Regions from separate parts of the Homo sapiens genome. Here region 1 is linked to region 2. Evidence: fine-mapped expression QTL. A gene starts in region 2. The other region holds a variant in brackets. All regions are shown on one strand. Distances are between the middles of the regions.

Evidence for each region.
Region 1: its variant is fine-mapped to the expression of BID in whole blood (INTERVAL, PIP 0.96).

Annotation. Positions count from the first base shown.
Region 1 is chr22:17,721,177-17,735,798 of GRCh38, reverse strand. It overlaps BCL2L13 (BCL2 like 13), which reads right to left. Exons shown (of 7, transcript NM_015367.4): 7 at 4,944-9,122. The coding sequence ends at 8,265. BID (BH3 interacting domain death agonist) reads left to right here. Exons shown (of 6, transcript NM_001196.4): 6 at 208-1,661. The coding sequence ends at 219. Among named protein-coding and RNA genes, the nearest start is that of MIR3198-1, 36 kb to the left of the region's middle. The variant C/A (reference allele first, on the strand shown) is at 3,956.
Region 2 is chr22:17,770,770-17,785,404 of GRCh38, reverse strand. It overlaps BID (BH3 interacting domain death agonist), which reads left to right and starts at 10,936. Exons shown (of 6, transcript NM_001196.4): 1 at 10,936-11,024. LINC00528 (long intergenic non-protein coding RNA 528) reads right to left here and starts at 8,115. Exons shown (of 1, transcript NR_103718.1): 1 at 5,924-8,115. RefSeq lists enhancers at 43-152, 1-494, 3,401-3,850, 7,601-8,080, 13,468-13,607 and 3 more and silencers at 10,808-10,907, 10,928-10,977, 10,998-11,067, 11,098-11,427.

The DNA.
Region 1 (14,622 bases), 50 kb after region 2:
TGTGAATACCCACCTCACCGCCTGAACGGCCTGTTTTTGCAGTTGCCCCCATGTAGCAAAAAGTAGGATGCACGGATAGGACTTCAGGGGTCTGGAGAACATGTTTTTGCATAAACCCCAGCTTTGCTCTACTGTGGCACAGAGCTCTGGAGCCTGGTTTGTGAATGAGCCTAGCTGATTCTGGCTTTTTCTCCTTTCTTGCTCTAGGGGATGGACTGAACGGACAGTTCCAGAAGTGTGACTGGCTAAAGCTCGATGTGGTCACAGCTGTATAGCTGCTTCCAGTGTAGACGGAGCCCTGGCATGTCAACAGCGTTCCTAGAGAAGACAGGCTGGAAGATAGCTGTGACTTCTATTTTAAAGACAATGTTAAACTTATAACCCACTTTAAAATATCTACATTAATATACTTGAATGAAAATGTCCATTTACACGTATTTGAATGGCCTTCATATCATCCACACATGAATCTGCACATCTGTAAATCTACACACGGTGCCTTTATTTCCACTGTGCAGGTTCCCACTTAAAAATTAAATTGGAAAGCAGGTTTCAAGGAAGTAGAAACAAAATACAATTTTTTTGGTAAAAAAAAATTACTGTTTATTAAAGTACAACCATAGAGGATGGTCTTACAGCAGGCAGTATCCTGTTTGAGGAAAGCAAGAATCAGAGAAGGAACATACCCCTTACAAATGAAAAATTCCACTCAAAATAGGGACTATCTATCTTAATACTAAGGAACCAACAATCTTCCTGTTTAAAAAACCACATGGCACAGAGATTCTGAACTAAAGTGCTGCACTCAAATGATGGGAAGTCCGGCCCCAGTACACAGGGGCTTGACTTTTTCAACTTCGTTTCCTTTGTTGGAGTCAAAAAGAACCACTTGTGGTTCTAAAAGGTGTGAAGGTGATTTAAGGGCCCAGGTCAGCCACTGTTTGTTTACAAAATCAGGTAACTAACTGCATACACTTTTTCTCTTTCCATGACATCAAGACTTTGCTAAAGACATGAAGCCACGGGTGCCAGAAGCTACTGCGATGCCCCGGGAGTTAGCCCCCTGGTAATAGCTGTAAACTTCCAATTTCTAGCCATACGCTCAGCTCATCCATGCCTCAGAAGTGCATCTGGAGAGAACAGGTTTCTAAGCATAAAAGATGAAAGAGCAGTTGGACTTTTTAAAAATTCAGCAAAGTGGTTCCCTCTCTTAGGGACAGTCAAAACCAAGTCACTTAGGTAGTACCAAAATAAATAAGGAAAAGCTTAGCTTTAGAAACAGTGCAACACTGGTCTGCTGTTCCAGTGGTAAGCTATGTCCCAGGAATCAGTTTAAAAGCACGACAGTGGATGCTGGGTCCATATCACACACATTGCTGTGAACAGGAAACTCCTGTGACCACAACATGAGGCCACTGGAGACGCATATGAGTAAGGGCACTGACGGACTCATGATTTCTTCTTACCAGATGCTTTCCTGTTCTTTAAGAGTTTAAAATCATCAGAAAGGAAAAACAAACTCTATATTGTTCAGCATGCAATACATACCACGCTAGGGCTGGCTCAATTGAAAGTGGGCAAAAGCTTACAAATACTAAAAAGAAGTGCTGCCGCGCAGTGTGGAGGCCACTGTTTGGAAATAAATCTTCCTAACACTACGACTTTTCATGTTTTGGAGTGGACTTTTAAAAAAGTTTTCCAACCACAATGGAAACAGGTTGAACCACACTGCGCCTACACATCCATCCATACGTCAGCCATTATAATCAGATTCTCACTGGGGGAGGCATTTTCTTCCCAAAGGAGCTGTATGCAGTCATCACCCGGAACTAATGGGAAAGTGTTCTTAAGCAGCAAGTGACTCTGGACCACCTCTCTCACACACTGACTCTTCCACAGCATCTTCACCTGCTTCTGTTTCACTTGAATTCATACAGTAGGCCACCATTTTATAACAGGTCTTAGTGTAAATTCTTCCAGACCAAGTCTGAGATAGTCTTGGTTGTAAAGCAAGACCGTCACCCCTTCTCCCAAAGCCAACATTATAAAAAGATTCCATTGTCTCAAACACAAATGTTCCAGTCTTGAGCACTTCCCAGCCATGGTGACTCGGGCATATCCTGGCAGTTGGTGGATTTTGCCCTGTAACACAATCCTTGTGGATATGATTCAAAGGTGACTTTAATTCAGAGAATGTGTTTTCCTTTCTGTTTTAAAAATATTTGAATTAAGTGATGGAAATTCTTTTGTTAAACATCAAAAGCTTTCTCCTTGAAAAGATGCTTGGTGTATCTGAAAGTCACGTGGGACATTTGGTGCATTCAGAAGGTCAAATCATTCCTGACCTCTCCTCTTAGGACCCAGCATTAACTGCTGCGATACTCAAGGCTTCCTTAAAGGATCACAGCACTGGCGCCTAGTTTTACTGTCCAGCAACTTTATTAGTTGTGCTAGCTGAGAATTGGAATATAGAGTCCTTTGAATGTTACGATCTTGTTTTCAAAACCTGGAGTCAAACCAATTAAGTATGGACTTAACAAAGACAATTGATGATGTGAAATGATACCACCTGTCAAGGGCATAGTTACCATGTGGATAGAAAGATGAGTCCACTGATTATCTTCAAATCCCATGTATTCTCTCTAGCACGTTGCTTCTGACAGAAAGAATAACTCACAGATTTGAAGTTTGTTCCTTTCCCCTGATGAAGAGTAGATTGGCCAAAAGGTAGATGACAGGAAGGAAGAGGAGCCAGAATGACCCACAGTGATCAGTTCAGCAGTGCAGAGCGGCAGTGCAGAGGCTCATGGAACTCACACGGAAAAAGGAAACACATGCTGCTTAAAATGCACGATAACTTAATTATCCAAATTACCATTCAATTCCGGTATTTTTGAGATGAAAGCATTTGAGCCAACACTAAATTGACCTTAATTAAGGAATGAGGTAGGAAGAGGCACTTTTAATCTGGAGGAAGAAATAAATGGAAGACTGTAATAGGAAAAATACAGGTCTAGGAAAAAAATAATTTTTTTCCTTTGATGCTGGCCAAGGACCCCTCTACATAATACAGTTCTCCTGCTGGAAAGCATCAGGGCAAACAGAGTTATTCCAAACTCTGCAACAGGGAAGACTGTACTTTGACCTTCTTTTCCTGGGGAAAGGGAACAACTAGTAATCTTTAAATGTCAAAACTTTTCTTCTAAATAGTACATTCATTAACCAGTTTCTTCTGGTGGTGCAAAGAACACTCACCACAGTGAGCAATACCACTATTCAATTTCCCCTTTGGAGAGGTGACAGCGGGGTAGAATCACCTGGAGTCAGCTGCTAGTCTTTAACTGATGACAAGGCCTTGCAAATACCCCTGAGAACAATTTCACTCTGAGCTCACAGGGAAGCAGCAGTCTGGTGTGGGCTCCTGTGGTGTAACCATCAAATGTGGAAGACCTGATGGTGTTAGTGTGTGGGGATGCCGGGCTGAAATTCAACAGCCTTGCAAAAAGAAAGGGAAGATGGGATGTGTTAATATTGTAGTGGCATGCACTTTCCAGCTCTCCATGGAGCTCTCTTTATATATGAGGTAATTGAATGTCACTATTCTGTACCATACAGCAGGTATTATCTAGCCAAGGTTATAATTACCATGAAGTGCTGTGGAATGTAGTAGGAGGCTTTTCACTGGGAAGATCCTCCAGGAGCTGACGTACTTGTGGCCATACCTGGTCAACCCTCCTAAGTCCCCAACCTCTTTGTCTGTCCAGAGGCCAAGCAATGCTTCCAGGTATTCCCCTACTTCACTCCACAGCCCCACCCTTATGATGGCATACACAGGGGAGAAGGGACGAACTCGAACAAACAGAAAAAGACCAAGAAATGCATCGTGGTGCTGTCTTCACCCCCCTCATTTAGCACTTTGTGATAACTGCTGGGACAGATTGCCTAACCTTGTCTA[C/A]AAGCAAAAATATTTAATCAAGAAAGCTAATGAAAGCTCATCGGCAATGACTGTGAATTCTGTAACCACAAAGCATCTCACTCAATGTCTACAGGGAAAACAGCTACATAATTGGAAGCTGAGACCAGTCCTGGACCTAACCCTCACTCTTGTTTTTTTGTAGTAGAACATGCTTAATGTTTAAGTGAGCCTATATGGTGCCTTTGTACAAATTAGAAAAATACTTCGCTTCTCCCAGAGCCCACAGCATGGTGAGCAGAGCACAGGCTGCACGTCGGAATTTGTCCCCAGTCAGTCCTTATGCAGTAAACAACTGGCGCAACTGTTTGCAGGGGACCTGCCAATACTGCTTTGCAGTGCCAGGAAAATGATAAAAACCGGCAAAATCATTGCCTTGCCTCGCCTATGCTTGAGGACGTTAGAAAAACTAACTCTGGGCCGGGCACGGTGGCTCACGCCTGTAATCCCAGCACTTTGGGAGGCCAAGGCGGGTGGATCACGAGGTCAGGAGATCGAGCCCATCCTGGCTAACATAGTAGAGACCCTGTCTCTACTAAAAATACAAAAAAAGCAGCCGGGTATGGTGGCGGGCGCCTGTAGTCCCAGCTACTTGGGAGGCTGAGGCAGGAGAATGGCGTGAGCCCGGGAAGCGGAGCTTGCAGTGAGCCGAGATTGTGCCACTGCACTCCAGCCTGGGCGACAGAGCAAGGCTCTGTCTCAAAAAAAAAAAAAAAAAAAAAAAAGGAAAAAGAAAAACTAACAAACTCTGATTAGGTTCTTCATTCTGTAATATGGGAATAAAAGGAATACAAACAGCTATTAGAACTGTGAAGGTGAAATAAGGTATGTGAGAGCACTAGAACCGTCTCTGGCATGTTATAAATGCTCAACTAGTATTTGCTAAAATATAATTATCGACATGAATTTTTTTTAGGAAAAATTATACACCCTAAACTCAAATGAATGTCATAATTGAGAGATTATCACTAAGGGCAGGTTTTGGTGCACCAGAGAAGAGGAAACATTATTCTGGTATCCAGTATGTCGCTGAGATGTTAAACGAGATAATGCTTGTGTGGGAATTTGGGCAGAAGCTCTAGGTCGTGTCTGTTAGCAATCAGATAGCCTACAAGGCCGTCTTGATGGGTATGATCACCACCTCAAATTCTTGGAAAGATAAGTTTGTGTGGAAAGATGTAAGAAATTAAGAGAAAGGGAAAATTCTTAGCTACAAAACGTTTTATTTCTATAAAACATCTCTTAAAATAATTCAAACACTGAAATGTCCACATCTCATACCTTTCAGGAGAAAGGCAAGGAGACTACTTGCCTTACTGTCATATTATTGAGGGAATCAGCGCAAAGCCTGAGGAAATGAACAGTAGCTGTGGGTCAAAGCCATGTCTCCAGGTTCACGGCTCACTCCCCCAGGACAAGCCTAGTTAGGTAGTGGCTGCATCTGGTATCCCTGGGACAGAAATGCAGGTGAGAAGGGGTATCAAGAATGCCTCGAGGGGGAGATGGGTGAACCAGAAGGTCAACAGTTGCATTTCTTCATCTAGAATGTTCTCTAGAAGGGAATGATGATCATGAGAGTCCCCTTAAGGCACACCGCAGGTACTGACTGATTTCTGTGGGCCCAGAATTATCACTTTAATACAGAGAGGATAAATTGGCGTTGTTTTTTCCCCCCAATAAATCATTACCTTCAACAGAGCAGTTGAGATGAGGTCTAAGGACTAACAAGAACTTTTCTATAAACAAGTTGGATTTATTCTGAATCTTTCCTTCACCTTAGACTTAGAGGGTATAAGTTGGAGGTGGAAGGAATGGCCTCCTACTATCAGCTCCTCCCCCCAAAAGGAGGGGAAGCTTGAGAAATAGTTTTTTAAATGTATGAGCAAAAAGCAGGAGCTGCAGTAGGAAGCAGTCCTCATGAGGGCTGTTCCCTTCCACTGCTGGAGGCAGAGGGTGAGGACGTGAAGGAAGAACAGGGATGCTGCCACATCCTGTTAACTCAGGAGCTGACCAAGAGCTACCAGAGAAAGCCAATGGAAAACACTATCTAGTTCCATTACCGTGAAATACAACTGGCCAAATCACTGTGGAGGAATGTCTAACAGGTGGGAAAATAAAGCAGCAAGTAGCCGCTTCCATACCACATTTCTTCCTTATTCTTTCCTTTCGTGGGCAACACAGGCTCCAATTTCCTAAGCCTCACACCTCCTTTCAGCAGCTCAGAGATGAACCTGGCTTCGATTGGTGCTTGAATGCGCTCAGCCAATGGGTGTGAGGATCCAGAACTGGCAAGTGTTAATACTGGAACTCATAGGATTTATTACTTTTTAAAAATCAAGATAACGCACCAGTTTGCTCTTCACCTATGCAAACACAAATATAGCAATTAGAATACAGAACAATCAATGCAACTATCAGAGCCCATGAAGAAAAAAATCATTGCCTCAATAATCCCATTCCCCCCACTCACCTCTAATTACTTAATCCAAGTACACAAAAACCCTTAAAACATCACTCCCTAAATGGGACACTAAAACACAGAACAAAGACACGCTACAGGATAAAGCTGGAAAGACACACAAACATACTCCCAGACCTTGTTTTGACCAATTTTTAAATATTGCTTTAGGGAGATTTTATTTGAAAACATAAATTTCAAAAAGAAAGCACATTTAAAACATCAGGTTTTGGTGATCAGGGTAGGTAAAGTATTTTTATTATAAATTTCAAGATCTAAAAAATAATTTATTACATTTACTAAGATAAATCTAAGATGACCTTTTTAAACCAAGCCACGTGTGCCCTGCATAGTGACGTCGTGGCCCTCGGGCATGGAAAGACACGGGTCTGCCCTTCCTTTAGGGCTGGAAAGACACGGGTCTACCCTTCCTTTAGGGCTGGAAAGACACGGGTCTACCCTTCCTTTAGGGCTGGGATCAGCCAGAGGAAAGAAAATTATGCCGATGCTCAACTAGCATATACTGATTAGGACTATTTTGGTTTATTACCCTGGCATTGAAGAATTCAGGTGAAGATGCCACCACTCTTGAACTCTGAAAGCCAAACTAGAATCTGCAGAGCAGCCTCAGTCTTAAAATTCAAGCTTCTTTTTCCTACTTTTTATTTCAGTGATATTTAGGACACTCTCTATTTCATAAGAATTATGATCTAACTGGCTCTATAAGCCCAAGAATAAAAATCCTTACCCCCTAGCAAGAGACCCATAGAACTCATCAGTAGTAAGACTAAGGTCCCATATTGGAAAAAATATACTAGCCCAAGGTTATAGACAGGGACCATCCAGCAATAGAGATGTTGCTGGCAAGTAACCATGGTGGTGGGTGACCACTAGCGAAAAGGGCTGAAGAGACCTCAGAAGGTCATCCAGGTTATCCTCCTGCCTTGACACAAGACACATGTGTCTCTCTAGCCAGAGTTACTTGCAGTTGCACTCACAAGTGGGGACCCCAGGTCTCCTTCATGTGATTTTCTCTGTGTACATATTTCGAAGATTCCCAAAGGCAGCATTTTTACAAGGTGGAGCTGCAGGAAGCTTCGGGGACTTGACAGACTGAGTCCAGAGCAAGCCCTCGCCCGTGGGATCTTAGCAGGAACCTGGGGGTGAAGAGGAACAGTGCAGTCCCTGAGAGGCAGCTGAGAGTACGGGCGAGCACCCTCACACTCCAGGATGAGGGCGGGGGGCAAAAAAAGAGTGGGTGCAGAGCCTGCTCATCGAGAAAGATGAAATTCTAAGGGGATTAAGAGCTAAGAAGTCAGTAGCTGAGGAGCCCACAGCTAAGTTCTCTCAGCTGGGAATTTCTATCCCAATTCTTCCTAAGTAAACCCTCTCTCGCTAAAGCAGTGGGTCTCAATAGGGGATGTTCACACGGGACATTTGGCAATGTCTAGAGACATTTTCGTTTGTCATCTCTGGGAGGGGGTGCCACTGGCATCTAGTGGGTGGAGCCCACCACACACAGGACAGCCCCAACACAGAGAATGGTCAGAACAGCACTAGTGCCAAGGCTGAGAAACCCGGTCCTGGAGGGGGTGCTTTACCCCTAAGATTCTCAATTTAGCATGAGCGGAGGCCCTTGGGATTTACAGTCAGATGAATGTGAATGCCCCACCTCAAGCCCTAACATGCCTAACATGCCACTGCCATGTTGAGCAGAAGTCCCCAATTATCCCAGAGTGTTCCACAAATGTCCAGACAGCTGCTGGAGGTTCAAATTCCAGCCAATACAACTCCAACCTTACATCCTTCTGTCTTTCTCTTCTGAAAAGCCTCCTATTTCTTTCTCAGAGCCAGGGCTACCCCGATGGCCACTGCCAGGATGGCAACAGCAGCAGCCCCTCCAAACAGCAGTATAGACTTGCCCTCAGACAGCGGCATGGGCTTCATCTCACCGGCGGGGGACAGTCTAGACTTGCCCTCAGACGGCGGCACGGGCTTCTTCTCGCTGGCAGGGGACAGCTCTTCCACAAGGCTCTCTTCCCTTGCGTTTATCTCCTTCTCACTCAGCAGCGTTTCTGTGGGTTCCAGTGCGGGGACCACCTCCTCCACTTCAGTAGGTTCAGTTGTTGCTGCTTTCACCTCTTCTTCATCAAGTTCTACAAACAGAGATGTAGCAGGGCTGGATTTCTCAACTGTGATCACTTCTGTGTCAGGTTCCCTTGTCCCCAGCAGGGAGGTGGCAGTGATATGTGGAAGCAAGGGAGCTGGGGCTTCAGGAAGTGCCTCTTGCAGCTCCCGCGCTGGCAAGACCACAGAAGCCACAGCAGCCTCTTCCATGCCCTCGGGCACCTCTTCTTTCTCCACGTGCACAATGTCAGAATTAGAGGAGTTGTTCTCACTCTTCTCTCCAGCTCCGTTGCTGTCTAAGCTTTTCACTTCTTCAGGATCCATTGCAATCTGCTGCCAGGACTCAGGGCCTAGTGACACTGGCAGGCTTTCTGTGTGCCAACTCTGGCTAGCTGACAGTGACACAGGTAAGCTCTCAGACTGCCAGGAAGTGGTCACAGTTGGAGACTCTGGGGGACTGACTTGTCCAGAGTTGTCGCTGGGCAGGATGTAAATGTCATTGCTATCTTCTGCAGTGATTCCAGGGTATTCCTCCTCCTCTGACTCAAGACTAAACACAGTGCCCTAGAAACGAAGGACAAGCGTCAATAATAAAGAATGGTAACTATTTAAAACATAAACATCAATCTGGAAAGCAAATTCTTTCCTAAACTGAAGTTCTAGGAATGAAACACTGTTTAAACCTACATAGTTTCCGAATGGAATGCATGTATTTGTAGGCCAATGCAGAGAAAGAATTTTTGACAGTCTTCTGAGCAGTCTCCTTGAAACTAAAAAATCCTAAGTTAATATACATTCAGTGTAATTCACACACAGGCTGAGAGCATCCTAATCTGAAAACCTGAAATCTGAAATGATCCAAAATCTGAGGTTTTTTTTTTTTTTTTTTTAAGATGGAGTCTTGCTCTGTCTCCCAGGCTAGAGTGCAGTGGCACAATCTCAGCTCACTGCAACCTCCGCGTCCCAGGTTCAAGCGATTCTCCTGCTTCGGCCTTCCCAGTAGCTGCAATTATAGGCACCTGCCACCACGCCCAGTTAACTTTTGTATTGTTAGTAGAGATGGGGTTTCACCATGTTGGCCAGGCTGGTCTGGAACTCCTGACCTTCAGTGATCCACCCGCCTTGGCCTCCCAAAAGTGCTGGGATTACAGGCGTGAGCCACTGTGCCCGGCCCAAAATCCGAAACTTTTTGAGTGCTGAAATGACATCACAAGTGGAAAATTCCACACTTGACCTCATGTGGTGGGTTGCAGGCAAAACACAGTCAAAAATCTGCTTCATGCACACAAAATATTATATATATTTATGTTATAAATATTGTATATTTGTAAATTAATATATTAATATTATATAAAATTACCTTCACGCTATATGTATAAGGTGCATACAAAAAGAAGTAAATGTCATGTTTGGGCTTTCCCATCCCCAAGACATCTCATCACATACACACAAACATTCCAAAATCAAAAAAAAAAAAATTAAAATCCAAAACACTTCTGATCCCAAGCACTTTGGATAAGGGATACTCACCCTGTATGTTCAATGCAGTAATTAATGCAAAACAGCAGAGAAAACAAAGGCAAGACCTTGTGCTCAAGGAATTTATCACTTAGTAGGGTATACAAATAATGCTATGTCATAGTCCAAGTGCCATTAAGAGTTCATATGGCAGTGTTGCTTTCCTTAGAAGAAGAAGAAAAAAAGTTCAGATGGGAAAAAGACCTCTTTGGGTAGAGGTCAGAGAAAGCAGGGAGATCACAGAAAGCCTCACGGAGGGACTAGCATTTCTATCAGACATCTGAAGAATGGGTAAGATTTTGGCAGGCGAAGGGTACACAGAAGACACAATGCAGGCAAAAGCACAGAGACAGAAAAAAAAGAAGATAAGGACAGAGCCCTGTTTAATTAATGCAGAGTGCCCATGAAGAATAGAAGGTCAGTGAGGACAGGACCATGGAGGAACCTGAATGACAGCTAAGAAATATGGACTTTATCCAACAGGCGATGGTTTGTCACTGACATCTCTGAGGTACAAAATTATAATCAGAGCTTTGCTTTAAAATTCCTCTGATGGCAGAGACAGAATGGAGAAATGCTGCAGACACGGAGACTCTTGCTTCTTTTGTCAGGAAGTCTGAGTGAAAGCAATAAAGCCCTACAGCACAGGCCTTGTGTCCATGTCTATTAATAACAGGCCACCGTGTGCCTACTGCTTATCAGGGTTGTGTCAGGCACAAGGGCTACGAGAAAGAATGGGTCTATTCTTACAGAATTTACTAGGCAGCTGTGAAGCCTGACATATGAATAACTAACTTCAATATGATACAGAAAGCTTTATGACAGGTGTATGCACAAGGGGCTAGGCCAACCCAGAGGGTAAGGCGCAATAAAAGGACAGGAAGAGAACCAATGGAATGGAATGTCACAGAGATGTACAGAAATTGTCATACAAAGGCTAGACAACACTCGTAAAAGCTACAGGGAATCTGAATGGAATATGTAAAGCAAATTAATTTCTACTTCATTTTATGATTATGGTTGCTATTCAACTGAAGTAGGATAATTTCATTCTTCAACCAAAACCAAAAACTTTCTACATACATCAAGGATCTAACATAAATCAAAAGTCTATCAGCCCCATAAAAAAGGAAATAAGAAATACAAATAAATCACACGACCATGATGTCGGCATCATACTGCACCACTTTCTACCTCGACCCTTGCTCCAGCCACTTCAGAGGCCCTGGTAAGCATCAAGGATGTTCTATGAGTATGGAATAATCAGGGGGTTAAAATAATACAGTATGACCACAAAATTCACAGTCAAAAACAACTGGCTTGTATCCCAGCTCCAACTGTGTACCAGCTGTGCGAATCTGGATACCTTGCTTAAACTTTTAGACTTCAATTTCTTCACAAATAAAATGGGGATGACTGACTAGATAAGATTGTTTTTGTTGTATTTTTAGAGTTGGGGTCTCGCTCTGTCACACAGGCTGAAGTGCAGTGGCAGGATCACAGCTCACTGCAGCCTCAACCTTCTGGTCCCAAGGGATCCTCTAGCCTCAGCCTCCTGAGTAGCTGGGAATAACAGCATGGGCCACTGCACTCAGCTAAGTTTTTTTATTTTTTGTAGAGACGGGTCTCTCTATGTTGCCCAGGCTGGTCTCAAACTCCTGGCTTCAAGCAATTCTCCCACCTCAGTGTCCCAAAGTGCTGAGATTATAGGTGTGAGCCACCACACCTGGACTTGAGTTCATTTTTAAAATGAGGTATAGTTTGTTTTTTGTTTTTTTTTGTTTTTTTTTTGAGACGGAGTCTCACTCTGTCATCAGGCTGGAGTGCAGTGGTGCAATCTTGGCTCACTGCAACCTCCGTCTCCCAGGTTCAAGTGATTCTCCTGCCTCAGCCTCCCGAGTAGCTGGAACTACAGGTGCACGCCACCATGCCCAGCTAATACTTGTATTTTTAGTAGAGACGGGGTTTCACCATGTTGGCCAGGATGGTCTCAATCTCTTGACCTCGTGATCCACCTACCTCGGCCTCCCAAAGTGCTGGGATTACAGGCGTGAGACACCGCGCCCGGCCCGAGGTATAGTATTTATAGTGCTTAGATTAGTACTTTGTACATAGGAAGTAATCAGTAAGTTATGCTATTTCATAACTTGCTATTGTTTGTGTTGTCATTTTAATTGTTGTTTTTGGTGGTATGGTGGTAGGACAAAGAGCTATTCTAAAATACCAACTGGATGGGACAATAAGGAAGTGAAAACAAATGGAAACAATACCCTCCCTTGGCTAAAGAAGGTAATTTACAAACTTTTCCTTCCTCCTCCATCTCTTCTAAGCAGAGATAACACAAAACTGTAAAGTAAAATCTGTCTTTAAAAATTACAGTACTGCAGTATACAATTAGGAAAATTGGAGGGCCCATTGGCTTGGAAGAGAGGGCTTCTAGGCCTCCCAGCTTTTGAGGATGACAGCTTGCCCCAGCCTCAGGGTAAGGACCACTGGAATGGTCCAGAAGAGGATGCATTCAGGAGAGGGAGAAAGAGAGAGGGAGAGAGGGAGAGGGACAGATAGAGAGAGACACAGGGAGGGTTTGGTTCAGCTAAGTAAGCAAAGACATGGAGATCCTAACCGGAAGCTGTAATCAGGTCTCAAGCTTACACATTTTGCAAGGATTTTCATTAGCATCATTTTTAATACAGAAGGATTTCAAACAGTCTTCAATACCCTCAGGAAAGTTTAAAAATATATATGGTTCATCCAAACTATTTAACTACTATTAAAAAAGAAGTACATTTTTAAGTCCAATGTGGAAGGAAGCCCATATTGTACAATAACTCTACATAAAAAACTACAAAGTATTATTGAAAGAAATTAAAGATATCCTAAAGGGATATATATATCATGCTCATAGATTGGAAAACTATTGTAAAGATGTCAGCTATTCCCAGATTAACCCTTTGGTTCAATACAATCTCCAATATAAAATCCTACCAGGTTTTTTCTTATGGAAATTGACAACTAATTAATTCTAAAATCTATATAGCAATTTAAAAAGGCCAAGGAATTTAAGCTGATCTTGAAAAACAACAGTTTGAGAGCTGACACTACCAGGTATCTACTCAACCCATTACAAAGGCACACTGATTGTATAAGCATGGTAAGAGCTTAAAAATAGGCAATTAGACCTGGCTGGGCACAGTGGTTCATACCTGTAATCCCAGCACTTTGGGAAGCTGAGGCAGGAGGATCATTTGAGGCCAGGAGTTCAAGACAAGCTTGAGCAACATAGTAAGACATCATCTCTACATACACACACACACACACACACACACACACACACACACACACACCCCTGTAGTCTCATCTACTCAACTCAGGAGGCTGAAATGGGATGATCCCTTGAGCCCAGGAGTTTGAGTCTGCACTGAGCTATGATCGTGCCACTGTAGTCCAGCCTGGATGACAGAGCAAGATCTTGTCTCAATTCCAAAAAAAACAGAGGCAATTAGACCAATTAAATAAAATAGAATCCAGAACTAGATATATAAGGTCACATGATTTGTGGCAAAGATAACTCTGTGGGAAAATGGATGGTATGATCCTATTTACTAAATGCACATATATACATATCTACTTATTTGCATATATTTATACATAATAAAATGTTTATATAAGCAAAACACATGTTTAGAAAAACGTACACCAAACCATTATGAGTTATTTCTAAGGGGCAAGGTAACAAGAAAAGTGTGCATCATAAAAATTTCTTGGCCGGGCGCGGTGGCTCATGCCTGTAATCCCAGCACTTTGGGAGGCCGAGCAGGGCAGATCACGAGGTCAGGAGATCGAGACCATCCTGGCTAACACGGTGAAACCCCGTCTCTACTAAAAACATAAAAAATTAGCCGGGTGTGGTGGCTCACGCCTGTAATCCCAGCACTTTGGGAGGCTAAGGTGGGTGGATCACCTGAGGTCAGGAGTTTGAAACCAGCCTGGCCAACATGGCAAAACCCTGCCTCTACTAAAAAATACAAAAATTAGCCAGGCGTGGTGGCACATGCCTGTAATCCCAGCTCCTTGGGAGGCTGAGGCAGGAGAATTGCTTGAACCCAGGGAGCAGAGGTTGCAGTAAGCTGAGATCGCACCACTGCACTCCAGCCTGGGTGGCATTAAGACTTACGTCTCAAAAAAAAAAAAAAAAAATTTCTTATAAGTGTCATGACTTAAAAAAAAAAACTATTTCCATTTATTTAAAAGAATGTATTTTTTTAACCACGCTGAAGCCCTCTCCCAAGCCCTGGACTAAATGGAATAAAGCTTTTTGCAGCATAACAAAATTTTTTAAATTAAAAAATAACAAAAATTTAAAAACTAAAAGAATGTAAATATGAACAGGGCTCTGCTACTTCCTGGGAACATGAGATTAGTAGATACTCAACAATCCCCACAGGAACTGTGGAACAATTTGAATCAGGTGAAGAGGCTCCTGAATGTCTGAATTTCGCACATCTGAAATGCGGCGTGGGGCACGTGGAAATATATATATATTTTT
Region 2 (14,635 bases):
AGAGGGCGGCAGGGAGCACAAGTTAGGTGAGCACCAGCTCGGTGTCCTGGCGGGATGTGTTCCTGTCTCTTCCCCCGACGTCAGCCTGGTCACAGCACTCACCCGGCCGGCGCCTCGCATTCCTCCCACCGACTTGGGACTGCTGACCAACTTAGGATGGGGGAGCACGTGGGAAGGCTGGAGGTTCCGGAGTCGGGCCCCGTGTAGATGCACAGATGCCTCCTGATGGGAGAACCCTAGGAGGACTCGGGAGGCAGCCCCCTGCAGCTCGAGGCCAGCCTCCCTGTTTCACGAACTTGCTGGGCCCCCGTGGAGTCCGTGTTCCCAGAGGGTTCAGCCGGCCCCATTGCCCCAGCCACCCCTCCACCCAGGCAGCAGGTCAGAGCTGGTGTCCCAGCAGCAGCTCCAGGGACAGGCCACGGGTCCCTGGGTCTTCACAAGGCCATCGTCAAGGATGAGGGATTTGTCCAGATGGGTGCTGGAGTGTCAGCGTTGAGGGGCTGCTCAACCCACAGGCACCCGGCCCAGCAGGCGAGAGGAGCCTCTCAGTGGTCAGCCCCCATGAGTGTCCAGGGCCTGCCTTTCTTTTCTTTTTTCTTTTTTCTTTTTTTTTTTTTTGAGACAGAGTTTTGCTCTTGTTGCCCAGGCTGGAGTGCAATGGCGCGATCTCGGCTCACCACAACCTCCGCCTCCCAAGTTCAAGTGATTCTCCTGCCTCAGCCTCCTGAGTAGCTGGGATTACAGGCACACGCCACCATGCCCGGCTAATTTTGTATTTTTAGTAGAGATGCGGTTTCTCCATGTTGGTCAGGCTGATCTCGAACTCCCGACCTCAGGTGATCCGCCCACCTCAGCCTCCCAGAGTGCTGGGATTACAGGCGTGAGCCACTGCGCCCGGCCCAGGGCCTGCCCCTCTAGCCCCCGGTTGTCTCCCCGGCAGAGTGGCTGCCAGGTCTTTCTCGGGAGAAAAGGAGAGAGAGGCACCTGGCAGCCAGCAGCTCCCTTTCCCCAGTGGGTCTCACTTCTTTTAAAAATGTTTTTAGAGAATTAAATACCTTTCAAAAATGTATCTCGGACCAAACTTGTTCCCTCGGGGGGCTGGGATGCCTTCCACCCGGAGGCCCCAGCACAGGGACCACCTGCCCAGCCAGACCGCCTCAGCAGGCAGCTCCTGCAGGTCCCGACTCTCTCGGCTCCTCCATGGCCAGTCATTCCCGCCCGTCCCCTGCGCTCTGTGTCTGTAGCTGCTAAGTTGCCGCTGCTGGCTGGTAAGAGAATTCTTCCTGTCCTTCCCCTGGTGTGGCCATGTATTTTGACAAGAAAAGACAAGCAGGAAATTGTCTTTTTCCCCAAGCTTCTTGCCCACGTCAAGGGCAGGCCTGCTCCACCAGCATCTGCCAATGCTTTGTTATCTCGGAGCAATCGCGTGCAGCTAATGGGAGGGGTCTCTGCTGTTGGAGAGGGTGGGATGGGAGGAGTCTCAGAATCAAGATCCAGGCAAGATCAGGGATAAAAAATTGGAAACCCACTTATTTCAAGCCAGGATTGTGATAAGAAGGACTTTGGTGAACAGCCCTAGGGTGAGGCCCACAAGCAGAAGCAATCGGATGGCACCAAAGACAGCACCGGCCCCCAGAACCCTGCAGAGCCTTGAGTAAGCGGGGAAGGCTTGCTGGCCTTCCCAGGCATGAGCATCCTATCCCTGGCCCCAGGGAGGGGGTAGTCTCTGCTCCCACCAGGTCAAGGTTTGGAGGAGGGTGAAGAACTTCGTGCATGAGACAAGGGGCATCAGAACAAGGTCCACCCCCAGCCTCCTCCCCCTAGCACCATCCTTTCCTCCTCCCTGGAGAGTCCTCCAAGGCCCCGGGGAGAACTAAAGCACAGCCACGCTCTTGGCAAGGCACCATGGCAGCAGAGCACGTAGGCGTAAGCACATGCAGTAGAGAGATTTGGTGTAGAGAAATAGAGATTAAGTAGGGCTAAGGCAGCTATAAACGTCATAGTTTTAGATGCATTTTCAGGTGCCAAAGAATTGCCCTTGGCTTTGAGAGCTGGACGGTGAGCTCAGCTGGGGCTGGGAGCCGGTGGCACCGTGTAGTACTGAAGCTTTCCCACACAGGGCCCAGGGGTGGCAGCGCCCCATCCAGGGAAGTCCCCTGGGTGGATCCGCCATTCAAAACTTTCCTGTCCTTTTCCTCCACGCCAGCGGAGATACAGGCTAAGACTCCCTAATGCAGGATTTCCTTTGAGCATCATGTCGGCAAAGATTCCAAAATCTGAAAAATTGAAACACCTCTGGTCCCAAGCATTCTAGATAAAGGGATACACACCCACCTGAAGGCCCCCCCCCCCCGCTTCTCCATCAGCACCTCTAAAGATGATCCCAAGAGCCTTCATCCCTCTCTCCAGGAAGATCTTTTACTGGAGGCCACATGCCTGTGAGAACCAAGCGCTAGACCAGGCGTCTGCCTGGCTGGCTGATGCCGGGTGCGGCTCTCCAAGCCTGTTTCTACCTTTGAACCAGGAAAAGAACATCCACTTCTCTGCCCCGTAAACAGATCCTAGACGCTGAGCACTTTGGGTTTTGTGGGGTGCTGGGCCATCCCTCTGTGGCTGCCTGAGTTGGTCCCATACAGGCATCTCTTCCCTGAAGGCTGACCCGGCCCTGCCCACGGCACGCCTGGGAGCGGCTCCTGCCCAGGCCTATGGCCGGAAACGCCACAGTGGCTCCTCTGGCTGGCATGAACTTCACGATGACACCTGGGTCTCAGTGCAGTTTGTAGGAAAGGAAGGATGCCACGGGGTCAGATCGTGTGTGGGGGAGATTTGGTACAGAAGCGAACACAGGAATGAAGATGGCAGAAACGTCACGTAAGGCGAGGCGTGTGTCTGCTGGCCTCTCGCCTATCGCAGGTCTGAACTGCGCACAGCATAAGGCTGCAGTGCTGAGACTCAGCCCCTCCCCGGGGGGCCACAGCCTGGGCCGTTCACTCTGCACGTGGCAGTCTTGGTTTCTGCACCTTTGAGCAGAATGCTAGACACAGTGGTGGTTTGCCCTCTGCTCAATATCCCTCTAACAAATCACCATGCAAAACATTCCAGCTGGGCACAGCCACCCCACGCCGGGACCCCCACACCGGGACCTCCACTCCCTTCCCTCTGCTGGGTGTGATTTGGCCAATATCCAAAGAGTTCACTTCAGAAAGGGCAGGGTGAGAGGAAGGATATCATGGGGGTCCCTGGGCTGGGCCAGCCCTGGGGCGGACGCCAGAGGGCCCAGCTCCCTCTGGGAAATCCTGCTCGCCCTGCCCCAGCACCCATTCTGAGCCACAGCCAGACTCTGGGAGGGCTGTGCTTGGAGTTTTCCAGCCCTTGGGCCTTAGGAGTTAGCCCTCTGAAAGTTGGTGGCGAGGGCTCACTAGCAGCTGAGGGTTGTTGGCATTAGATAGAGCAGTCCCAGGGAAAAGGCTGCTTGAAGCAATATGGGAAACCCCAGACTGGTCTTTCTGCAACAGCTGAGTCATGCCAGCCTCCCAGAGCTTCTGCAGGGTCACACCCACCCAGCAGCGGGGCTGGGGAATTCCTGGGGTCTACTTGCCTCCGCTCAGTGGGTGGGACTGGTCTTCACCATGGCCGTGATTTCACCATGGGGGTGAACATGATTTTCACCCCCCCAGGCTCTGGTCCTGCATCTCGCCATCTCTCCCCTCTCCTCTAGCAAGACTCTTGCCCTCACAACCCACCGGCCCTTCAAGGCCCAGCGCTTGGGGAAAGCACCTCCTAGGCAGGGAGCCACCCAGCCAGGCACCACCAGCCAGGCCCTTCTCTAGGCTGTCAGGGCAGAGCCCTGGGTCTAGGCAGAGAGGGGAGCTCTGTGGTCGGTGCTGACTTGGCCAGGAGCCACCAGCCCCGGTGCTGTGGCCCTTTGATGTTGGCTGAGAGCTCTGGGCCATCCCTGCAGCCCCAGTTCCTGGGGAACTAACTGCAGGGAGGGCTCTGTGCACCTGGCCTCCTGCCATGTGATGGTGTGTGTTCACTCTGTTTTTCCAACCCAGGTCTCGGGCAGGCGTTTATTGTCGGTTTCTGTCCCAGAGATGAGGGGAATGGGGTGGCCAGGAAGGAGGAAGCCTTCACTCCAGCAATCAGGCCCCCGCCAGTACTGGGGTGGGCTCCAGTTCAGGGGCTTAGGAGGCACCATGGAACGCATGGGCTTATTCCCAGGGGAGCAGAGGCCTTGTGCAGACCTCACCTCCTGCAGTGTGGGGGGATGAGATGCCTGGAGGGGCAGGAGGGAGAAATGGCCCACTTGGTAATAGCCATTACCGCGTGTCAGCCCTGGCCAGCAGGGGACAGGCCACCTCTGCCCCTGCCTCCCCAGCCCTGTCCTCAGGCCAGGAGGACACTGGCCCCTCCACCCCTCATTCCTTCTGCTTCTGAGAGCACCTGAGCTTCAGTGAGAGCACAGCAGCCCGGCCGGGGAATGAGCGGCACCTGGAGACAGCCCACCCTCAAGAAGAGCATGGAAGTGTCTGGGGCGGATGGTAGGGACAGGGGCTTCAGGACAGGGGAAGGCGGTGGGGGCAGCTGGCAGGGAGGGGGTGAAGTTCCAAGGGTGCACTGAGAAGGGGACTGGGGTGGAAGGGGAAAAGGGCAGTGCGTGGCAGCCCCTCTGCTCCTGTCTTTCTCCCCATGCCCCTCGGGAGCCGCCATCCAGCCCCCACTCTGAAGCACCTCCCACAGGGACCCCAGCCACCCCACTCACAGCACACACAGCTGCTAGGAGCCTCCCACCGCACTGCCGGGTAATCACAAGCCACGCTTCCTGAGCGCATGCTGGGTGCCTAAGACCTTGCGTTTCATGTATTCACAGCCCGCCTCTGAGGAATGTACTATCATCTCTTTGATGACAGGAAATTGGGGCCCAAGAAACTTGATCTGGGGCCTCAGGATGCGGGGAGCTGGAGGCCAGCTTTTCTGGGGGCAGCCCCTGGCCAGTTACAGCTCACGAAGCTCGTCAAGGATAGAGCTGAGAAAACAAACTCTGAAGGCTGAGCTCTTAACCACCAAGCTAGAGGCCTCCCGCCCTCCTCTTGACCTCTGCCCTGGGAGGCCTGCCCAGACCCCCGTGCCCACGCACCCTCTGCCCTCCAGATGCACAGATGCTTCTGGTCAGAACCGCACCCTGCTCTTCAGTGCACCAGTGTCCCTTGTAGAGTTCTGTGCCGTGGCTTCTATCCCAAGTCACTCGGGAGTAAGCTACGCGCACTGTCTCCCCATCTTCACCCAGGGATGTGAAGAGCTGGTGACCGCGGAGACGCTGGATGGGACAGCATCAATCTCGGCACTCTTGGGAGGAGAACCTCAGAGGAAAGCCGGGACCCCGTCAGACTGAGCTAGCAATACGCCAGGTCCGGAGCTCCCAGTCTGTTACTGCAGCGAGCCTGCAGAAAGAGTCCGCCATCAGGAAGGTGGTGGACTTCTTTCTCCAGGTGCCGCCACTACTGCTCTGGAGCCGTGGGAATGCTGCAGTCTCCTTCCACAGAGAACGTGCTCTCCAGGTGTGTGGAGTGCCTCAGCCGACAGCCTCGGGCTGCAGCCACAGAGGCCACGTGCTCCAGGCACTGAGCCAGTGGTATGGGGGGTCTGTCCCTTGTTCCTGCAACAGCATCCTTGGCCCTGAGCTGCTGTTGGTGTCGCAGCAGGGCCCTATCAGATCTGCTTCACAGCCGACCAGTTCTCTTCCTCCCTCTCTCCCCTCCCAGGGGTCCGATCCCCATTGTGATCTGAAGGCTGTCCCTGTCCAATCCCGCCCCTTCCTCTTGGGTGTCACCTCCCACCGAGCTTTGTCTCAGCATCTGCTTGCCGGAGGATGGAAACTGACACCTCTGTCCTCTGCTGAGTAATACCAAGACGAAACCCAAAGGACTTTTCTCTTTTGTTTTTTATTTTTATTTTAGAAACGGGGTCTCACTCTGTTGCCCAGGCTAGCCGTGCACTGACACGATCACAACTCACTGCAGCCTCCACCTCCCGGGGTCAAGCCATCCTCCCACCTCAGCCTCCTGAGGAGCTGGGACCACAGGCACACACAAACATGCCTGGCTAATTTTTTATCTTTCTTATTTTTTGTAGAGATGAACATCTCACTGAATTGCCCGGGCTGGTCTTGAACTCCTGGTGGCCCAGTCTGGTCTCGAACTCCCAAAGGACTTTTGAACAAAAACTCTCAAACTCATTGTTCACCATGGAAATGCAAAACCAAAATAGCACCGAGCTATCATTTTATACTATTAGACTGGCAAAGGTTTGGAGGCTAGATCCTGCCCAGTGTTGGTGGGGATGGAGCAGGGCGGCCTGCAAGCCCTGCTGTGGGATTAAAGTGTACCACTGGGGAGACCTCACCACAGGCCCACCTTAGACGGGAGCTCTGTCCCTACAGTTTGGTCCCCAGATATCTCTCTAAAGAAACCCTCATTCGGGCTCAGAGCACCGTGTTTGAGGATATGAATGAGAGTGGCTCGTCATGGCGGCAAGTTGGAGGTCACTGGGGTTCCATGGTTTGGGAGGCAGTTGGGCAAAATGCAGGGCTGCCCACAGTGGGGACCCCATGGCACTGGAGGCACACGCGCAGCAATGTGGAGGGACCCAGCAGATGGAGCCGGGTGGAGAAAACGCGCCAGCTCACATCTCAGTTAAAACACACGTGCACGAGCAACAGCACACTTGCTCGTGAGACTGCCTAGGAGCCAGTCCACGGCGCGGAGAGAGCCGGCAGCGCTGTCTCATTCACTGTCTCAGTCCAGCTTCCAGCCCTGCGCCATCCTTATGCGAGAGTCCCTCAGGTGTGTGGCAACCTCAGCTCTGCACACCCAGCCTTGGACACCCACAGCGCAAACAGGGACCCTCCCAGAGCTGCCCCCAAGCCCTCCCCTGGCCTGTGTGCGGGCGTCTGAGCGGGTGGAGGCCAGCCATGGGCTCTGCTTCCCTGTGAGCCAGGGTCTGGGCTGAGTCTAACCTAGAGGCCCAGGGTGAGCGCCGGGGAGGTCACATCATTCCCGGAGTTTGGAGGGATCCAACACAGCTCCCCTGAAGTTGGCTGTGACTTGGGCCTGTCAGAAGCAGCCTGAGAGGAGGGTCGCAAGTGACCCAGACCTGGGAAGGAGGGAAAGGTTTGAATTTTGCAAAAAAAAAAGATAACTTTGCCCTTTTCGCTTGATCTTGGGGGGACAAGATGGGGGTGACGCCTCCCGAGACCGGGAGAGGAAGGCCACCTGGCGAAGCTGCAGTCCCAGCATTATCTGTATGTTAAATTGATGTTTTAAATCAGAGTTGATATCCAAGTAATTAAAGAATAACTAACAAGCACAGGGACTAGTGAGGGGCTGGGCCAGATTCTCTGCAACCCATATGGCTTCACCTACTTTCCAAACCCCCGGTTCTGTGAGGACCGAAAATGACCATCCCAGACTATTCCAGAAACAGCCTGGGGATTCTGAAAGTTTCCCAGAGCATAGGCAGTGAAAGAGAGAGAAGCTCAGCCCTTCTGGAGGGGACGGGTGGCTCAGAACAGAAGGTGGAAAGGGAGAGAAGCTCAGCCCTTCCAGAGGGGATGGGTGGCTCAGAGCAGAAGGTGGGGATGCAGTTCTGGGGGCGCCATGGCCGAGCACCACAGACCCGGGACTTGCACAACAGAAGCGGGTTTCCTCACAATTCTGAGCCGGAAGGCGGAGATAAATGCGTGGGCACGGCTGGGTTCCCCGGACGCCTCTCTCCCTGGCGCAGAGACGATGTGTTGTTCTCCCCGGGTCCGTTCCTGTGTGGGTGTCCGCGTCCCCATCAGGACACCAGTCAGATAGGAGGAGGGCCATCCAGTGACCTCACTTCACCTTAATCACCTCTGGAAAGTCCCTGTGTCCAAGCACAGTCACGTTCTGAGGTCCTGGGGGTCAGGGCTTCAACTTACGAATTTTGAGAGCATTCAAGTCAGCCCACAACAGTGGACTCTGAAATAATCTTTTAGGAACTGGACTCCTCAAGGACGCTTTAGAAAATGCCGGCCTCGTTCTGTTGCAAAGGGGTAACTGAGGAAGAGGGGCTGAATTTTCACAGGAAGACGAGCCCGGTGGCAGGAAGTGACAGTGAGAAACTGCAGCATAAAGCGGAAGCAAAGGCCGACTGTGACTATGTGGTCGCCAGCTCGCCTTCCCCGTCAAACCTTGCTGGATTTTGTGTTTCATTTTCATTGCCAAAAACATCATTCAGGTCGGGTGCAGTGGTTCATGCCTGTAACCCCAGCACTTTGGGAGGCCGAGGTGGGAGGATTACTTGAGCCCAGGAGTTCAAGACCAGCCTGGGGAACATAGCAAGACCCTGTCCCAAAAAAAAAAAAAAAAAAAAAAAAAAAAGGCCAGGTGTGGTGGCACACGCCTGTAATCCCAGCACTCTGGGAGTCTGAGGCGGGCAGATCACCTGAGGTCAGGAGTTCGAGAACAGCCTGGCCAATATGGTGAAACCCCGTCTCTACTAAAAATACAAAAATTAGCCAGCCAATCATGGTGGTGGGTGCCTGTAATCCCAGCTACTTGGGAGGCTGAGGCTGGAGAATCACTTGAACCCGGGAGGCAGAAGTTGCAGTGAGCGGAAATCACACCATTGCACTCCAGCATGGGTGACACAGCCAGACTCCGTCTAAAAAAAATTTTTAAAAAATTAGCCAGGCGTGGCGGTGCATGCCTGCAGTCCCAGATACTTGGGAGGCTGAGGCAGGAGGATCACTCGAGCCTGGGAGGTCAAGGCTGCAGTGAGCTGTGATCACACCACTGCACTCCAGCATGGGTGACAGAGCTAGATCCTGTTTCAAAAAAAAAAATAAAGTCATCATTCTCTCATGTATGTGTATATTGTTTCATTTGTTAATTAAGGTATAATTTTACATACAGTAAAACTCACCATTCTTCGTGCAGAGTTCTCACAAAAGTGTACAATTGTGTGGCATCCACCACAATCCCTGTATAGAAGAATCCCATCATCCCCGGAATTTCCCTGGACCCTTCCATAGCCCCCCAGTCCGTCACCCCCTGAATTGTTTTCTGGCACCCCGCCCCCCTTTCTTTTTGAAGTGGTTGTTTTGCAGGAAACATCACCCTCTCTCATTTTACAAATACTGCAGACAGATTTTGAAGCCCAAAGCATCATAGAGGCAGCAGATCAGGACAGGGAGGATTGAGGCGGGGAGGCTCTACCCTGACTGTAAGAAGCACTTGAGAGACCTGCAAAAAGCCAACAGGAGAGGCAGAGACTGTGGGGGCCAATTGGTACAGGTCCTGCCCTGCATGACAGGGCCAGTGGCCCCCACAGTGCTGAGGATAAAATCCAACTGCTCATCCAGGCTGCTGGAGCCTCCTGCCTTCAGGCCACCCCACTGGCCTCTTGCCCACTGTGCCCCACTGTCCAAGCTCTCGCCTGCCCTGGGAGGGGCCCCTGCAGCTTCTTGTGCCCAGGTGCACGTCCCTCTCTTTTCCCATCTGGGCGCCTGCTGACATTGTACCATGAATTTGAACACCACCCTGCAGATGACCTGGCCTCAGTCCATGAAGTTTCCCTTTCGTCTTCTGCAGGGCACCGGCCCCTAATGCCATCTGACGGTTTCCCTGCTCACAGGATCTTCCATTTGTTAGCCCCCCAGAGTGCCCAGCCCGAGTGAAGAGCATGCAGGAAACAAGCCCCTGTCCTCGTGGAGGCTACATTCCGAGAGGGGAGGTAGGCAACACACACACAAACGACTCCGTGGTATGTCATGCTGCGATGCTGGCTGTGGAGGAAAATGAAGTGAGGCCTGGTGAAAGCCAGAGGCCATGGGGCTGCCGAGGAGGAACAGGGACAGGGTAGGATTTGCTTAGAGCAGGGCAGGTCGCGTGGGACTCTGCGGGCCACTGAAAGGAACTTGGCTTTTATTCAGAGGATGTTAAAGCGTGAGTGACATCCTCTGACCTTTTATAAAAGAGGCAAGAGTCTAGGGAGCCCGGGTAGAAGTGAGGGCGTCTGGAGGAGCCACAGTGGGCTCAGGGAGTGAGCCCACGCGAGGGCGCAGAGCAACTGGACGCTCCAACAGGGCTGGTGGAAGTGCCGAACGGTGTGCATCACCTTGGAAAGCAGGCAGTTTTTAATACCATGAAGCTCGTCCAGCCCTATGATTCGCATTTCCACTCCTAGGTATCACACTCAAGAGAAGTGAAGACGCCCACAAAGGGCTCTGCAGCAGCACTGCCGGTGAGAGCTGCATCCGGGGATGCATGGACTGGCCTGTCATTCCAGCACCTTGGGAGGCCGAGGTGGGAAGCATCGCTGGAGCCCAGGAGTTCGAGACCAGCCTGAGACCTCCAGAGGTGGAGACCCCCCCCCCACCACCTCCACTAAAAACTGAAAAAGAAATTAGTTGGGTGTGGTGTGCGCCTGTAGTCCCAGCATTATCTATATGTTAAACTGATGTTTTAAATCAGAGTTGATATCCAAATAATTAAAGAATAAACAACAAGCACAGGGACTGGTGAGGGGCTGGGCCAGATTCTCTGCAACCCACATGGCTTCACCCACTTTCCAAACCCCTGGTTCCGTGAGGACCTAGAATGACCACCCCAGACTGTTCCAGAAACAGCCTGGGGATTCTGAATGTTTCCCAGAGAATCATTAGGAATTATCCCAGCGGCGCTGGAGTAAGTGGCCAACTTAAAGTTGGACGACACTGTCTGAAACAGTCGCGTAAGGGGTAAGGGTGGAAAGCCTGGTTCTCACTGCGCTGCCGGCTCCCCGCCCCGCTCCACAGCCCCGCGCCGGCGCGGGCTCCCCGGGTCCCCGCAAGCCGCCGGGGGCGGGCCGGGGCGGGCCGGGGCGGGCCCGGGCGTGGGGGGCCGAAGGAGGAAGCGCGCGGGGCGCCATAAGGAGGAAGCGGGTAGTCGACCGTGTCCGCGCGCCTGGGAGACGCTGCCTCGGCCCGGACGCGCCCGCGCCCCCGCGGCTGGAGGGTGGTGAGTGCACCCGCGCCCCTCCCGGGGTACGCGCCGAGCCCCAGCCCGTGACCCCTGCCTGCCGCCTGCCCCGGCGTGGAGCTCAGGGCCCGCCGCCCGCCCTGGGCCCGACCGCGGTGGGAGCCAGAGGAGGGGAGGCGGGGGGTCAGAGCCCCAGGCCTCAGCAGCGACCTGAGGGCCGGGTCTCTCCCGCCTCCCCTCCGCCCGGGCGCCCTCCTCGGCGCGGCCGGCAGGTCGGTGCTGAGGGTCGGGTCCGCCTCGGAGGCGGGGAAGGCTTTGTTGTGTCCTCTCCACGTGGCCTGGGGATTCAGGGGAGGGGTGCGGGGCGCGGGGAGGGGGAGGGGCCGAGGCCAGCCCCGGAGAGGAGAAAACCCGCGGGCCTGGCCGGGTGCAGGCCACCCTTGCCGGCGGATCGGAATCCCCGCCCACACCGTGGTCTTTCCAGCACCGCAGACACCTGCCGGCTCCTCCCGAGCGGAGCTCAGGGCTGACAAAGCGCGGTCAGAGCGGCCGCTTACTGGGGCTCGCCCGCTCCTTAGAGCACTGGCAATGATGTGCGGATCCTCGCTGCTGCTGCTGGGAAACTGTTGAGTGGCTGAATGACCCCAGGGGACCCTGGGAGAGCTCTGAAGCCCTCAGCCACCAAGTGGCTGGGCTGGCAAGGGTTCATTCATTCATTCAACAAATACGAATGTGCAGCGGTGCTGGGGTCATGATGGCTCGGTGGGCAGCGAGGGGCCGGGCCGGCTGGAGGAGCACAGTGCGGATTCTGTAAGTGGGCTGGGGGCTGGGCCTTCTGCGGCTGGACCGGCCTTCACCTGCAGGCAGGGTTGGGGCAGGTGAGGAGCAGATGGACCCACCCAGAGCTCTTCCACCTTCTCAGGCTTGCACCCCCTTCCTGGAGCCTTATCCACACCCTCAGTCCTCGCTCTCACTGTGGGGGAGCTGCAGAGGATGCGGTTTTTCCACATTCCATCTCCACCCACAGGAGGCTTTGAGATGGGGGGAGCTCTCCTGGGCCTGAATGTGTGCCGTCCTGGGGCCCTGCAGTCCCCTGGGAGTGATGACCGAGACCAGATTCCCTGAGCTGGGGTCTTAAGGGTGTGGGGAGCGCAGAGGGATCCTCTGGCATCAGGAGTTGAGGTAGACAGAGCTCCAGGGAGGCACTGCCGGGAGGACGACCCTGGCCAAGCCTCTGCCTGCGGCCCAGGGTGTGCGTCCCTGCCCCTTCTGCCCCTCTTGCCCAGGGAGGGAAGAGGAAATGCGGGGTCAGCAGTTCGTGGCTGGGGTTTAAAGGCAGGGATCTCCCAGGACGGGCACAGGGAGCATGAGGAAGCAGCTCGTGTCTCTGTTCATGAGATGTGAGAGTGGTGACTGAGACGAGGGGTGCAGAGACCTGCCGTGGCTGGGGCGAGGTGCTGTTAGTGCTTCTGAGGAGGTTGGGCAGGATAGACGGTGGCTGTCAGGTGGTCTCAAGGTTGTGCAGGAGCTTGCCAGAGAGGGAAGCGGGGCATGGCCCCAGGGTGGTATGGGGGATTCTAGGGGGAGGGTGCCTGGGTGGGAAGGGGTGTCGCATGCCCAGCTCAGAGGCCTTGCTTAGGGGTGCTCACAGGCTCGGCTGACGTGAGGATGCTGATCGAAGGAGCTGAGGGTCCCACTCATTTGCAAGGGGGAACTGTCTGCCCAGGAGCCCCAGCAGTGCCCAGGCCCCTGGACTGACAAGGATGGATGAGGGTGATGGAGGCGGATGGACATTTGACACTGGAGCCTGCCTTCCAGGCAGAAGGGCCGTGAGTCATCCTCTCTCCGGTGCCAAGTGGAGGGGCTGAGCAGGTCCTCGACGTGACCGAGGACTGTGCCCGTTTTTTCAGGGGACCCGGAGCGCTGGCTCTGGCTGTCAGCCCATGAGAGACCTCCCTGCAGAGCTGTGGCCTCTGGAAATGCTTCCTGTCGTTGACATCTGGTCACCATTCTCCAGCTGGGGCTGTGGAGGGCAGCACAGGCCTGGAGTGTCCCCGAGAGCAGCTGGGCGTCTGCCCCTGCCCACCCCACAGGGCCTCCCACTCACAGGGCCTAATTAGCAGCTCCATGGCTGCCATACCTGGCGGACCGCCCTCAGCGGCCACATATATCCTTGCCCCAAGCCAATGACAGGTCTGAAGAAGACACTGATGGAGCTGAAGCACAGGACAGAGACAAGCACCTGTGTGCCGGACGCTCACGGAGCACTTGATGTGTGCTGACTGGCTCACATCACGGTGGTCAGACGAGGGTAGCATCCCCATTCTCCAGATGGTGTAACTGAGGCAAGGAGAGGCTAAGTAACTTGTCCAAGGTCACACCCGAGGGAGTTGGACTTCAGGGTCTCAGCTCTGAGCATCAGGCACACTGCCCAGATTCCCCCTCCACATGTCACACCTGTTAGGCCACTGGGGGTAAGGAGCCTTTCTGTGGCCTCGCTCCCCTGTGAGCCCCTGGGAGGGAGGCAGCCCAGATTCCAAGGCAGCGAGTGACGTGTGTGGGAAAGGGGAAGCTTCCGGGGCAGGGGTTCAGAAACCTCGCAGTGGGGTTTTCCCCAAGAGCCACTGCTGGCAGGTTCCTACAGCCCCATCCAGCCCCAACACAGCCTGCCTCTTTTCCTTCCTCTTCCTCCTTTTCTCTTTCTGCCTGCGTTGGTCCAAAATGGGGAAGTTTCACATAAATGGCAAACAGGCCACAAAGCAGCTATTTCTGGAGGTGCTGCTGCCTTGCAGATTGAATTCTTGGTTGGCATTTTAGGTGTTTGTTTTCAGGATCCTTTTCTGTAGAAGAAGCCAACAACTAAGAAAAGGAGGAAGTGGCTTTGGGAGGCTGAGACGGGAGGATTGCTCGAGCCCGGGAGGTCAAGGCTATAGTGAGCTGTGATTGCACCGCCGCACTCCTTGAATCCTATCAGCTTGGCCAGGGTGGGGGTGGGAAGTGGGGTCTTAAAGGGGAAAGACCAGCCGGGCGCGGTGGCTCACGCCTGTAATCCCAGCACTTTGGGAGGCCGAGTTGGGCGGATCATGAGGTCAGGAGATCAAGACCGTCCTGACTAAGACGTTGAAACCCCGTCTCTACTAAAAATACAGAAAATTAGCTGTGCGTGGTGGGGGGCGCCCATAGTCCCAGCTACCTGGGAGGCTGAGGCAGGAGAATGGTGTGAACCCGGGAGGTGGAGCTTGCAGTGAGCCGAGATCGCGCCACTGCACTCCAGCCTGGGGGACAGAGCGAGACTCCGTCTCAAAAAAAAAGTGGGGGAAAGATCACCATCTGGATCATAGACCAGACCTGAAAGGGGGCTGGTCACTTTTAGGTACGTAGAGTAACTGGAAAGACACACTGTCCTAGTGGAAGCCGTGGGTGGCCTCTGTGGCTGCTGTGGCCCCAGGGGAGGAGATACCTGTCTTCTGGGGCTGCGGCTCAGTCTGGCTCCGGGTCCGGATCACCAGGGAACTTTCTGCAGAGCATCCTGCCTGGGCTTTGCCTGGTCTGCATGGGATCCCCCAGCCTGTGGCTCAGCCCGCTTCTATGCTCATAGCCATGCTGGCGCCGGGGGCAGTCCTTGGCTTCCCTCCTCGTTGGCTTAACAA